Linked DNA regions of Homo sapiens: region 2 is linked to region 1. The links come from fine-mapping of genetic effects on gene expression. A gene starts in region 1. The other region holds a variant in brackets. All regions are shown on one strand. Distances are between the middles of the regions.

What was found. PIP is the estimated chance that this variant, and not a neighbour inherited with it, causes the effect.
Region 2: its variant is fine-mapped to the expression of SYNDIG1 in pancreatic islets (PISA, PIP 0.95).

The regions. Positions count from the first base shown.
Region 1 is chr20:24,467,438-24,472,814 of GRCh38, forward strand. SYNDIG1 (synapse differentiation inducing 1) reads left to right here and starts at 2,192. Exons shown (of 4, transcript NM_024893.3): 1 at 2,192-2,316.
Region 2 is chr20:24,618,892-24,624,268 of GRCh38, forward strand. The region is part of intron 3 of SYNDIG1 (synapse differentiation inducing 1); the gene reads left to right. Among named protein-coding and RNA genes, the nearest start is that of SYNDIG1, 150 kb to the left of the region's middle. The variant A/C (reference allele first, on the strand shown) is at 2,416.

The sequences.
Region 1 (5,377 bases):
ATTGTTGAGAAGGTTACCCCAGTTTCCAAGAGACTTGGCAATTTCTACTGTGCCCCATTGCCTAATATGTGACAGCTCCTCACTGACTTTCTTGAAAGTCTTTATTTCAATGCTATATCACAGCATACCAGATAATATTTCAAGCCACAACAAGGGAATCACAGGTAAGAGAAACTGCCCATCGTGTGCTGGGCAACTGAGCTTCCCACCAGGAGCCCTTAATGAGCTGCTGCATCTGCCAGGAGTGGGTGACATCTGTTTCTTTACATACACGTCCTGGCCCTGTGAGTTTCTTTTGAAATGAAGTGTAAGGCCCCTTTGAATTACAGAAAGATGTGTGTGTGTGTGTGTGTGTGTGTGTGTGTGTGTCATGGGGGAAGAGTCCACCTTCTGTTTCTTTCTTTTTTTTTTTTTTTTTTGAGACGGAGTCTCACTCTGTCGCCCAGGCTGGAATGCAGTGGCGCGATTAAATTCAAACAGCACCCAGGAGACAAAGGCGAGTCCTGGCTGCAGCCCAGGCAGGTGTTCTCTCGTCAAAACAAAATCTGCCTCAAAAGTCAATCCAGAGGCTGGGCAAGTGAAAGAGCAGTGACTTAGAGGCAGGGAACCCGAGCTTCAGGCTACTCCTGCACATTGGGTGGCTACACAATCTCAATTACCCTTTTTAAACTTCAATTTCTTCATTTGATAAATGGGATCAATGACTCTCCACCTCAAATGGGTCTAATAGTATCTGCTCAACCTAATGGCTTAGATGGGAAACTGCTTTATTCAGGAAAGGACTCCGGAAAGGTAAGCTGCTTTATTAAAGTGTGGTGGCATGTTCTTCCAAGTTGAGAAGTTCTGCTAGATGGGAGAAATGAACAGTGCCCGTTTCTGAGTGTTCCAGACCACAGCCTTGCAGCTCTGGGGACCTAAAGGAAGAAACATCAGGTGTGTCTCGCGGGGCTGCAGACATGAAGACGGGGATGGAATTCAGGTGATAGTACTGGTTCCACTCATCCGCGCCTCCTTCAAATGCCTCCTTCTGGCACTCTGCATTTCAGCATTCTCTTTGGGCTGCGGAGGCTCCCTAGAAGCCACGTCCCCTGAAAGGAATATAGGAAGGACCTCTTGTTCCTGGCACCACCTTTAACTCCTGCCCCTGCCCACCAGGACACCTGGGCAAGACGCAGCGCAATGGTGGGTTACCAGGCAGGAGGGAGGGCTCTAGGAAGGTTGGGAGCCATGGAACTCTGGAGCTTAACCTTCTCTGACCACCAGTGTACCAGCCTGCGGGTGGCAGGACTGGGGCCTCTGCCTAGTGTTGAAACGGGGGCGCACAGATGCTTTTCTAAATAACTTTTGACCCCCTTTCTGGTAAATCTTTTTTTCAGAGTTGATTCTCTATGAAATCTACACTGCAAACACCACCTCCTCCGCTCCTAGAACGCAGACTGTCTTACCACCGCCCTAGTTTCCTTCCAATTCCAACTGGGGCGGGCCCGCCATGGGCCAACAACAGGCTGGCTCAGGGCTGAGGGGGTCTCTGGAGTCTGAACTCCGCGCCCGCTTGCTCCTCCAGGGCTTAGCTGGTCAGGACTTGAACATTCGCCGGATCCATAAATTGGGTCATTTTTAACCTCAAAACCGAACCGCAGCCTGGGGAGGCCTTTAGGACCGAGGGGAGCCATCCCTTCCTCTAGTCGGGCAGCAAATTCCTGTCCTCCTAGTCCCCCGCAGCTATCCCCCGCCCCCAGCCTCTGTGGCCCTCACATTGTCAGACACTGGCCGCGGGCCACCATCTGGACGCGATCCCCCGCTAGGGCCTCCCTGGTCTGGGCCAAAGTTGGTGGCCACCTTCGCGCGGGCTGCGCCCTCCTTCTCTTCCCTGCCCTCCTCCCCCGGGGCCCGCGCCCGCTGCCTCCAGCACGCGCGTCGGCAGGCTCGGCAAGCGAAGAGGAGCGGCTCGCCCCAGGGCGCCCCTCGCCCAGCCTGCCGGCCAGGCGAGCGCGACGAGAGTCTCCCCGCACCCCTTCCTCTCCCGGGGGCCGAGAGGGTTGGGCTCCGCCCCGGCGCCGCAGCTCCCGACTCCCCGCCGCTCGGGCTGCCGCCGCTGCCCCGCGCCCGGCGCTCGGGGCAGCCGGGGGCGCAGGCGGAGAGCGCAGGGCGGGGAGAGGCGTGGGGAGCAGAGCGGCGCTGAGGGGAGGGCAGAGGAGGAGAGAGCCTGGCAGCGGAGGAGCAGAGGCGGGCGCCGCACCGCCCCGCACGCTCGCTCGCTCGGGAGAGTCGCGGGCGGCCGCTTGGGCGCACTTGCCGGGTCACCTTGTCCCGGAGGTAAGTCCAGACCTCCCGGCCGCGGGGGCGGGCGGAGGGGCCCGCAGTGGGCGGGGTCGCGGCAGGGGCCGCGAGCTGGCGGCGGGAGCTGGAGGCTGCCCTGCGCTGGCGGGTGTCCTAGTCCTGGCTCCGCCTCGGAGCGCGCAGACCCGGCGGCGGCGTGGCGCCCGCGGTAAGTCCGGGTGGTCGCCGCGACGAGACTTGGGAGACACGGGGTCGCAGGGCGGGAGGGGGAGCTGAGCCGGCAGAGAAAATGCCCAGGAAGGGGTCGATGCTGGCCTGGGCTGCACCTTGGTGCCTTGCCACCCCGGGAGACGCGAAGGGGCTGCTGTGCGAATTCGATGGGAGCTGGTGAGACCGAGAACTGAGAGCGTAGCGGAGCCAGGCTGCCCAGCAGGGCCATGAGGGCGCGCGGCGGGCCAAGGCTCTGCGGGTTCGGGCTGCCCCTCGGAGTGACCCGAAGGAGACCAGCCAGGGCTGGTGAGCCGGGCGGCCACGGAGCTGGGGACCTAGGTCTGTTTGGGAGTAGGAAGGGAAACAGACTAATTCTCCGAGCGGAGCGGCAGGCAAGGTGCAAGCGCGCTTGGGATGGGGAATCCCGACGGGCGACCGTGGCGGAAGCAGAGACTCCTGGAGCCTCTTTCCTCTAGCCAGGACAAGACCTGCCTTCAAAAGCTGTCTGGCCCCTGGCAGCCGCGACAGCCTGCAGCCCTGGGAGCCACAGCCCTGGCGCCGAGATGGGAGCGAGCACATACGCTTTTTTGGTTCCAATTTGAATCTCGCTTTTTCCTAGTCGTGATTTCTGCCTCTTCATGTGCACTCTCTGGGCAGTGAGGAGGAAGGAATGGCTCACTGGATGAGTTGGGCACTTTTCTTAGGGAAGGGGCTTTGTCCCTATGCGCTTTTTGCAAGACCCTACTAGAGTGGCTCTGGCAGCCGAGCTTTGAGGAGGCGGCCAGAGGGGCCGCTTGGCGTTTCTGAAAGACGAGAGGAAGGGGTCTTCTGGTAGTCCTGTTTTCCTTTGGGGGTTTCGTTGCACGCAGAGGCTTGGGCGCTTGGCACCCAGACTTCAGGTGCGCACAGTCCTCCTGCGACGTCAGATGCGCTGGCGCCGCGGCGCTCCTGGCTCGGACCGATGCCTGCGCCTTCCCTGGCCACGTCCTGGTGTTTAGTGCAGCAGACACCGGCCGAAGGCTTGGCTGATTGGGGGTGTCGAGGGGAGGGGGGCTGGGCGTTACACAGTGGCTCCGTTTTCTGGTTGGAATCAGTTGGTGAGGCGTGCGCGCGCGAGTCCGTGTATCTGTCCGTCTCCCTCCTACAGCCCAGCGTGTTTGGTCTGAGTCCAAAGAAGGAGGTGGTGTGTGTGCTGCGTAGACCTGCGCCTGTGGGGTGAGCAGCCTCATAGCCCCCAGAGCCGGCCAACTTCTCCGTGCTAGGCTGCGACCTCAAGGGCTGCCGCGTCGGGGATCGGAAGTGGTCTTCAAAGAGGGGTCTAGGTCGCGAAATCCTGGCAGCAGCCGAAGTGAAAAGGAGCTGCTAGGAGGCGGGCGGGGGGCAGTCTGATGTCCGTTCTGGCGCGGACAGGAAGAAACTGAAGTCGAATTTTTAGTTGAATTGCGTGCTCTGTGTTTGGCGGTGGTGTGGCCCGTTCTTTTGGAGGTCCACACCACAGGTATGAGGCCTGTGGGCCCTGAGGAAGCGCGATCCCCTTAATTCCTCCCTCCCCTCTCTCTCCACCGCCCGCCCCTTTGCAAGGAGCAAGCCTGACAGTAGCTGATCGGCGCCCTCTCTCACCCTGTCCCCATTTCCTGCCTGAAAACGGAATCCTCATAATCAAGAGGGCCTTGTTAAAAAAAAAAAAAAAAAGGAAAGAAAAGATGGAGAAACCTATTTTTAAACTTTTTTATTATGGAAAATTTCAGTTGTACACAGTGACAGACAGAGAATAGCACTGAAGCTTTGTGTACCCCCCACCCAGTCACCACCTGCAGTTACCTTTGGTAGAGTTTTGGAGGCCACAGAGTTTTGGAAGCCTTGTTTGATGAAGTATTTCAAAACTCATTCCAAAATGCTAAGTATTGGATAGTAGGTTAATTAGCTCCATTCAGTCATGACACATTGTATACGCATATCACAGCATCATTTTGTACCCCATAAACATACACAATTATAATTTGTTAATATCTGATAAAATAAACCAATTCAGTAAAAATACAAAATCACTTTGATGTAAACTTCAAAAAAATAAAAAAACCATTCCAAACTCACTTCACCTCTAAACACATCCCTCTGTATCTCCAGCTGATGACATTTCATTTTATGTTCACCTATCAGAAATGTCAGTTTTTAATAACCCCATTAGAGTATAGGTGATATTAAAATAAAAATGAAGGCCCCCTCCATTCCCATTTTAGGGTAGAAAAGGAAAACCTGCCAACTTTACTTGAGGCGTACAGGGGTGAGATATTGAAGAAGGAAAGACAAGTCCGGATCCTGGGAAGACAGATATGTTAGCAATAGGAACAGACTCATTCTAATTCATGAAGGGCGTGAACACGATTCTGGTTGAGCCATGATAGGCAAGAGAATTTTTTTTGATAAAAACTTTAAAACTCAGTTCAAAAATTATAAGCAATTAATTTCTTCCACATTTAGCATTGAGATAAATTAAAAGTGCTCTACCAGACTTGAGTTATTTTTCTCATTAATTTTAAATCGTATTTTCTAGGGAGTTATTACTATTATCAGAGAATAGAAAGTTGTTTTCTTATGTAAGATTTCTATCTGAGGCACTAGTCGGTGCTATTCTGAGGTTCATGGAGAGTACTGAACATTTCATTGTCTAATTAGAAAATGTTTGGTCATCCTCCAGGTCACACCTGCTCTGCCCTCTGAAAAGGCTCTGTGCTTGCTGAGATGTGATATTCACTGTGACTTCTACTGTCTGGAGAGGCATGGCACGCAGGGAGGCACTGGAGGCAGTGGGAGGGGAGGCCCTCCCTCCACCAGCCCCCTCCCATTCTGCACACCTCTGTGCTTTCCTGTATATAAAAGCAGTTCC
Region 2 (5,377 bases), 150 kb after region 1:
GAGACCAGGGCATTAGGGCTTGTATTTCCTTAATTGCAACAACAGCAAAAAATATCATCAAATAATATAGAGGGAGACAAAACGCACCTGTTTTCTTCCAGGTATGGCCTCTGTAGAACCTCCTGCTCTTATATGAGAAGACTGAGGTTTACAGTCTCTTTTGCAGGGCAGGAGTGTTGAAGCCTCCTGGAATTTAAAACTGCCAAAAGGGTTAAAGAAAAGCTGTGGTCTTGAGTCTATCTCATTGTTTTAAATGCTGGAAAAATGAAAATGCCTATGTTAAGCCTGTGTGTCTGACTTAGTGGAACCCTCAGCCCTCAGCCAAACTTGACTAGTGTTACACCTCAAGGATCCTTTAATCGGGTGCATAACAAGGATCTGGACTGGCTGCGCAGTGTGTCCACATAAGCTCCTAAGGCCTTCACTGCAGCTTTTCTGAAGAGTGGGGACCCAGGGCCATTCCTCCTGGGCCCACTGGTCATTGTCATCATCAAGTCTGTTCTCTTTAAATGTTGCTGTTATGAAAGGAGCTGGAGGGTAGCCAATCACTTGTACAACACTACTTCAGTCTTGTTTCACTTCTCAATATTTGCAAAGTGATAAGAGAGACAAGTCTGCCATCCTCATGTTCCTGTTCGTAGATGATTCTCAGGGGAGCTGGTATTTATGTGACATAAACAAGAGCATGCATTTGCAAGTGCATGCACACACATAATTCAAGAACCTTGCTATACATTGTATTTATTTTTAATGTTTATAATTAAGATAAATGTAGTGTTGCCACTATATAATAGCATAGCCCAGACTGACTACATTATCTTCATGATGTTATTAGACAACAAAGCTCCAGCCATTAAAGGAAAGTCATCTTTTAGTGACCAGAACATACTGTATCCCAGACCCCATGTGGCATGACCCAGCCTAACTTTCATGTGCAAAATCAGGGTTCTGTATCTTCCATTTGAGTGGCATTGAGGGAGAGAAAGGGTGATGCAGAGGCTTCCAAGTTCAGACCCTGCATGATGCAAGGCATGTTGTGGAGTTCTGCACATGAGGAAACTGAGGCCGTGGGAGTTTAAATATGGACTCAGCTAAAGAGGTTCAAAATCCTGGCCACCCTGGAGAGCTTCCCTAAGACCCTACAGGAGAAGGTAAATTCTTCTTCAGGACAACTTTGTGTCAGTTCCTGCAACCTTCAAGCCACAATCTATGTGATTCTTATCAGTTTTAAAGGAAAGTATTTTATACACAACTCCAGATCCCTGTTTTCTGATAAACCTCAAAATTGTATTTACAACACTGATCTATTTATTGCTGCTACCCATACATGGTGGCATAAACAACTTTTTCATTATGCTCATGATTTCTTTGGTTGGGAGTTCAAGAAGCAGCATGAGGATGGTTTGTCTCTGCACCATGATGTCTGGGACCTCAGCTAGGAAGACCCAAGGCTGGGGGGTGACCTGACAGCTAGGAGGAAACATCTGGAGGTGTCTTTACTCCCACATTTGGTCATCAGTGCTGGCTGTTTGCAGGGACTTTAAACAAGCCATCCATAGGAGGCCCATCTCATTGCCTTTCCATGTGGTTTCTGCACATAGGCTAATTTGAGCTTCCTCACAACACGGCAGCTGGCTTCCTCAAGCAAACGTCCTACATCAAGGTGGAGCACAAGATCTGGTTATGATCCAACCTTCAAAGCTAGGCAGCATCACTTGTACTGGACTGTACTGGTCAAGGCATTCATAGGAGGAGACATAGATGTCAAGGCTCTGGAAGATTATAAGGGATGGGAAAAATTGCAGCTGCTATTTTGGGACTATATAGTCTGCCACAGCTGTATTTCCAAGGATGAAAGAAAACTATACACATAACGTATTTGTATTAATAGGTTCATAGGAAAATGAATAATGACGGAACAATTGTTTTCCTAAATACTTTATTCAAATCAATATATCAAATTAACAAAATCTCTTTGACCTAAAATGCCTTCTGTCAGTTCTTATAAGTTCATGGCATTATTTCAGTAAAAGGTAAAAGGCAATTTGACTGAGATGCTATTATAACCTCTCAGGTGCCCGTTGGCATACAAAGCAATGATGATAAACACATTACCTGATGGAGATAAAAGGGCTAAGAATCTTGTGAATCTTCAGTGGGCAAAGTAAACAGCATTATGTTGATAATGCTAAATGATAGCATTAAATATTTTAAGAGTGTTAAAAAATAAGCTAAGTTAGCATATTCCATCAAATATCTGCAGCCTGATGTTTTGTATGTGTACAAGAAAGGAATAGAAACTGTCTCAACAAAAGAGAGCAACCTTAAAGCATTTGCTAATCTTCCACATGCATCTCACTTGTTATTCTAAAAACAAAGTGTTGGGAAAGCTTATCTATTTACTTTTGCTACTTA[A/C]GTAAATAACTTATCACATCATAAGTGCATTGCACTTTGAAGGTTTCAGTTGGTTGGCTTAGCACATGGTAAACACCAATTTGGCATTCTCTCTTGTTAAGTGGCCATTTGCAAAATGTATTATTTCAGATTTGCTGAAATACTGAATTTCTAAGTTTACACTCTGCTTATTCATATTTTTAAATAACTCTTTTGCCATTTGGTCCCAAACCCATGTGCTGATGTGTCTGCTGGGTCTCATTTCTTCCCCTGTATTAGTATCTGAAGCAGTGGCATCCTTTTTTTGGGGGAAAACTCTACCCTGGGAAGGGACAGAAAGATTTGAAAGTCATACCCTTTTCTGGAGTGCACCCCAGGCCAACTATGCACTCCAAAGAATGATACTTGATCAGATCAGAGAACATGTCCTTCCCTATGCCCTACCACCATGTGAATGAGCTTCCAGTATAATAACCATGAGTTGAGCTTGAAAAACCACAAGACATATACTCTGACTTAGGTGCCATATATAAGGGAATCCAAATGCCAAGAGAAGAGGCAAAAATAAGGACATTAGAAGTTTCTGACACCTAAATCTACACCAAACATTGAATACACTTCAACTCCTGGCCAAATTAACATCAATTCTCACTTGAAAGTCTTATTTAACTCAGTATCTTCTGCTCTATACCATATGTCTATATTTCAACATAATATTACAAGGCAGGCCAAAAGTCAAGAGAACACTGATGAGACAAAATAATCATCAGAACCAAACTCAAATATGACTCAGATGTTGGAATTATCAGACATGTAATTTAAAACAATTATGATCAATATGTGAAAGACGTTGATGGAAGAGGTAGACAACACATAAGAAAATGGATGTCAGCAGAAAGATGAAAAGAAATGCCAGTAATACAAAACAGACAAAGAAATGAATAATTTTTTATTGGGCTCATATGTAGATTTGACATGGCTGAAGAATCAGTGACCTTGAGGATAGGTGAAAGGAAATGACCCAAACTGAAACACAAAGAAAAAAAGGATGGAAAATAAAACAGAGCAGGACAGGAAATCCAGGAATGTGGAACAATACAAAATAGTGTAACACAGGGGTCTCCAACCTCCAGGCCACAGACCAGTACTGGTCCATGGCCTGTTAGAAACTGGGCCACACAGCAGGAGGTGAGTGGCTGGTGAGCAAGCATTACCACCTGAGCTCTGCCTCCTGTCAGATCACTGGTGGCATTAGATTCTCATAGGAATGCAAACCGTATTATGAACTGCACATGTGTGGAATCTAGGTTGCATGCTCCTTATGAGAATCTAATGCCTGATGACCTGAGATGGAACAGTTTCATCCCGAAACCATCCCCTCTGCACTGATCCGTGGAAAAATTGTTTTCCATGAAATTGGTCCCTGGTGCCAAAAAGGTTGGCAACCACTAGTGTAACATATGAAAATTGGAATACCAGAAGAAGAAACAAGAAATATTTTTTAAAATCATGGCCAAGAATATTCCAATATTAGTCATAGACACCAAGCCACTGTCTTAAGAATCTTAGAAAACATCAAGCAGAATTAGAACAAAAAACAAAAACAAACCAACAACAACCAAAAGTAACTGAGATATATCCTGTTTAAACCATAGAAAATTGAAACCAAAGAGAAAATCTTGAATACATCTGAAAAGAATGAGGACATTCTCTTTAGAGAAACAAGGATTAAAACTACTGCAGACTTCTCATCAGAAACTGTGCAACTCTGTAATCTGAGCTACTCGGGAGACTGAGACAGGAGAATTGCTTGAACATAGGAGTCGGAGGTTGCAGTGAGCTGAGATCATGCCCCTGCACTCCAGCTTGGGTGACAGAGCAAGACTCCGTCAAAAAAAAAAAAGAAAAGAAAAAAGAGACTGTGCAACTAAGAATGCAGTTGACTGTAATCTTTAAAGATCTGAAGAAACAAATAAAGAAAAAATACTGGCAAGTTAGAATTGCATATTCAGTAAGAATATCCCTCAAAAGTCAAGGATAAAATAGAAACTATCTCAGATAAACAGCTGATGGAATTCATTGCCAGCAGGTCTGAAGTCTATAAGAAATAGCAAGGAAATTCTTCAAACAGAAGGAAAATGTTACAGGTCAGAAATTTGGATCTACATAAAGAAAAAAAGTACAGCAAAAAAGAATAACTAGAAGTGAAATAAAATATTTTGTTTTTCTTACTCATAATTTATCTAAAAGATACTATCCATTAAAAGCAAAAATAGTGATGCTGGCTTTGGTGATTAGAGCATGTGTTCAAGTGAAAAACGAAAACAGCATCCCAAGAAATGAGAAGGGCATTGACAAATACTCTGTTGTGAGGTACCCGCACGACACATGGAGCAGTATGGTATTATTCGAGGGTAAATTTAGATTAGTTTAAGATGTATACTATGAACCCTGGGCACTAAACTATATATTAAAAAAGAAGTATAAATAATAAGTCAGTAGAGGAGATTAAATGGAATCATGTAAAATGTTCAGTTGAAACTAGAAGATTCTGAAAAAGAGGGGGAAAAAACCAGAACAAATCCAACAACCTTACAAAGATGGCAACCATTAATCTGACTGTATTAATTATCAGTTATATATGACATTTAAAAGACAGACTGTCAAACTGGAGTTTTAAAAATGAGACCCAACTGGCTGGGTGCGGTGGCTCACACCTGTAATCCCAGCACTTTGGGAGGCCAAGGCCGACGAATCACGAAGTCAGGAGATCAAGACCATCCTAGCTAACATGGTGAAACCCCATCTCTACTAAAAATGCAAAAAAATAGCTGAGTGTGGTGGTGGGTGCCTGTAGTCCCAGCTACTTGGGAGGCAGAAGAATGGCATGAACCCGGGAGGTGGAGCTTGCAATGAGCCGAGATCCTGCCACTGCAATCCAGCCCGGGTGACAGAATGAGACTCCATCTCAAAAAAAAAAAAA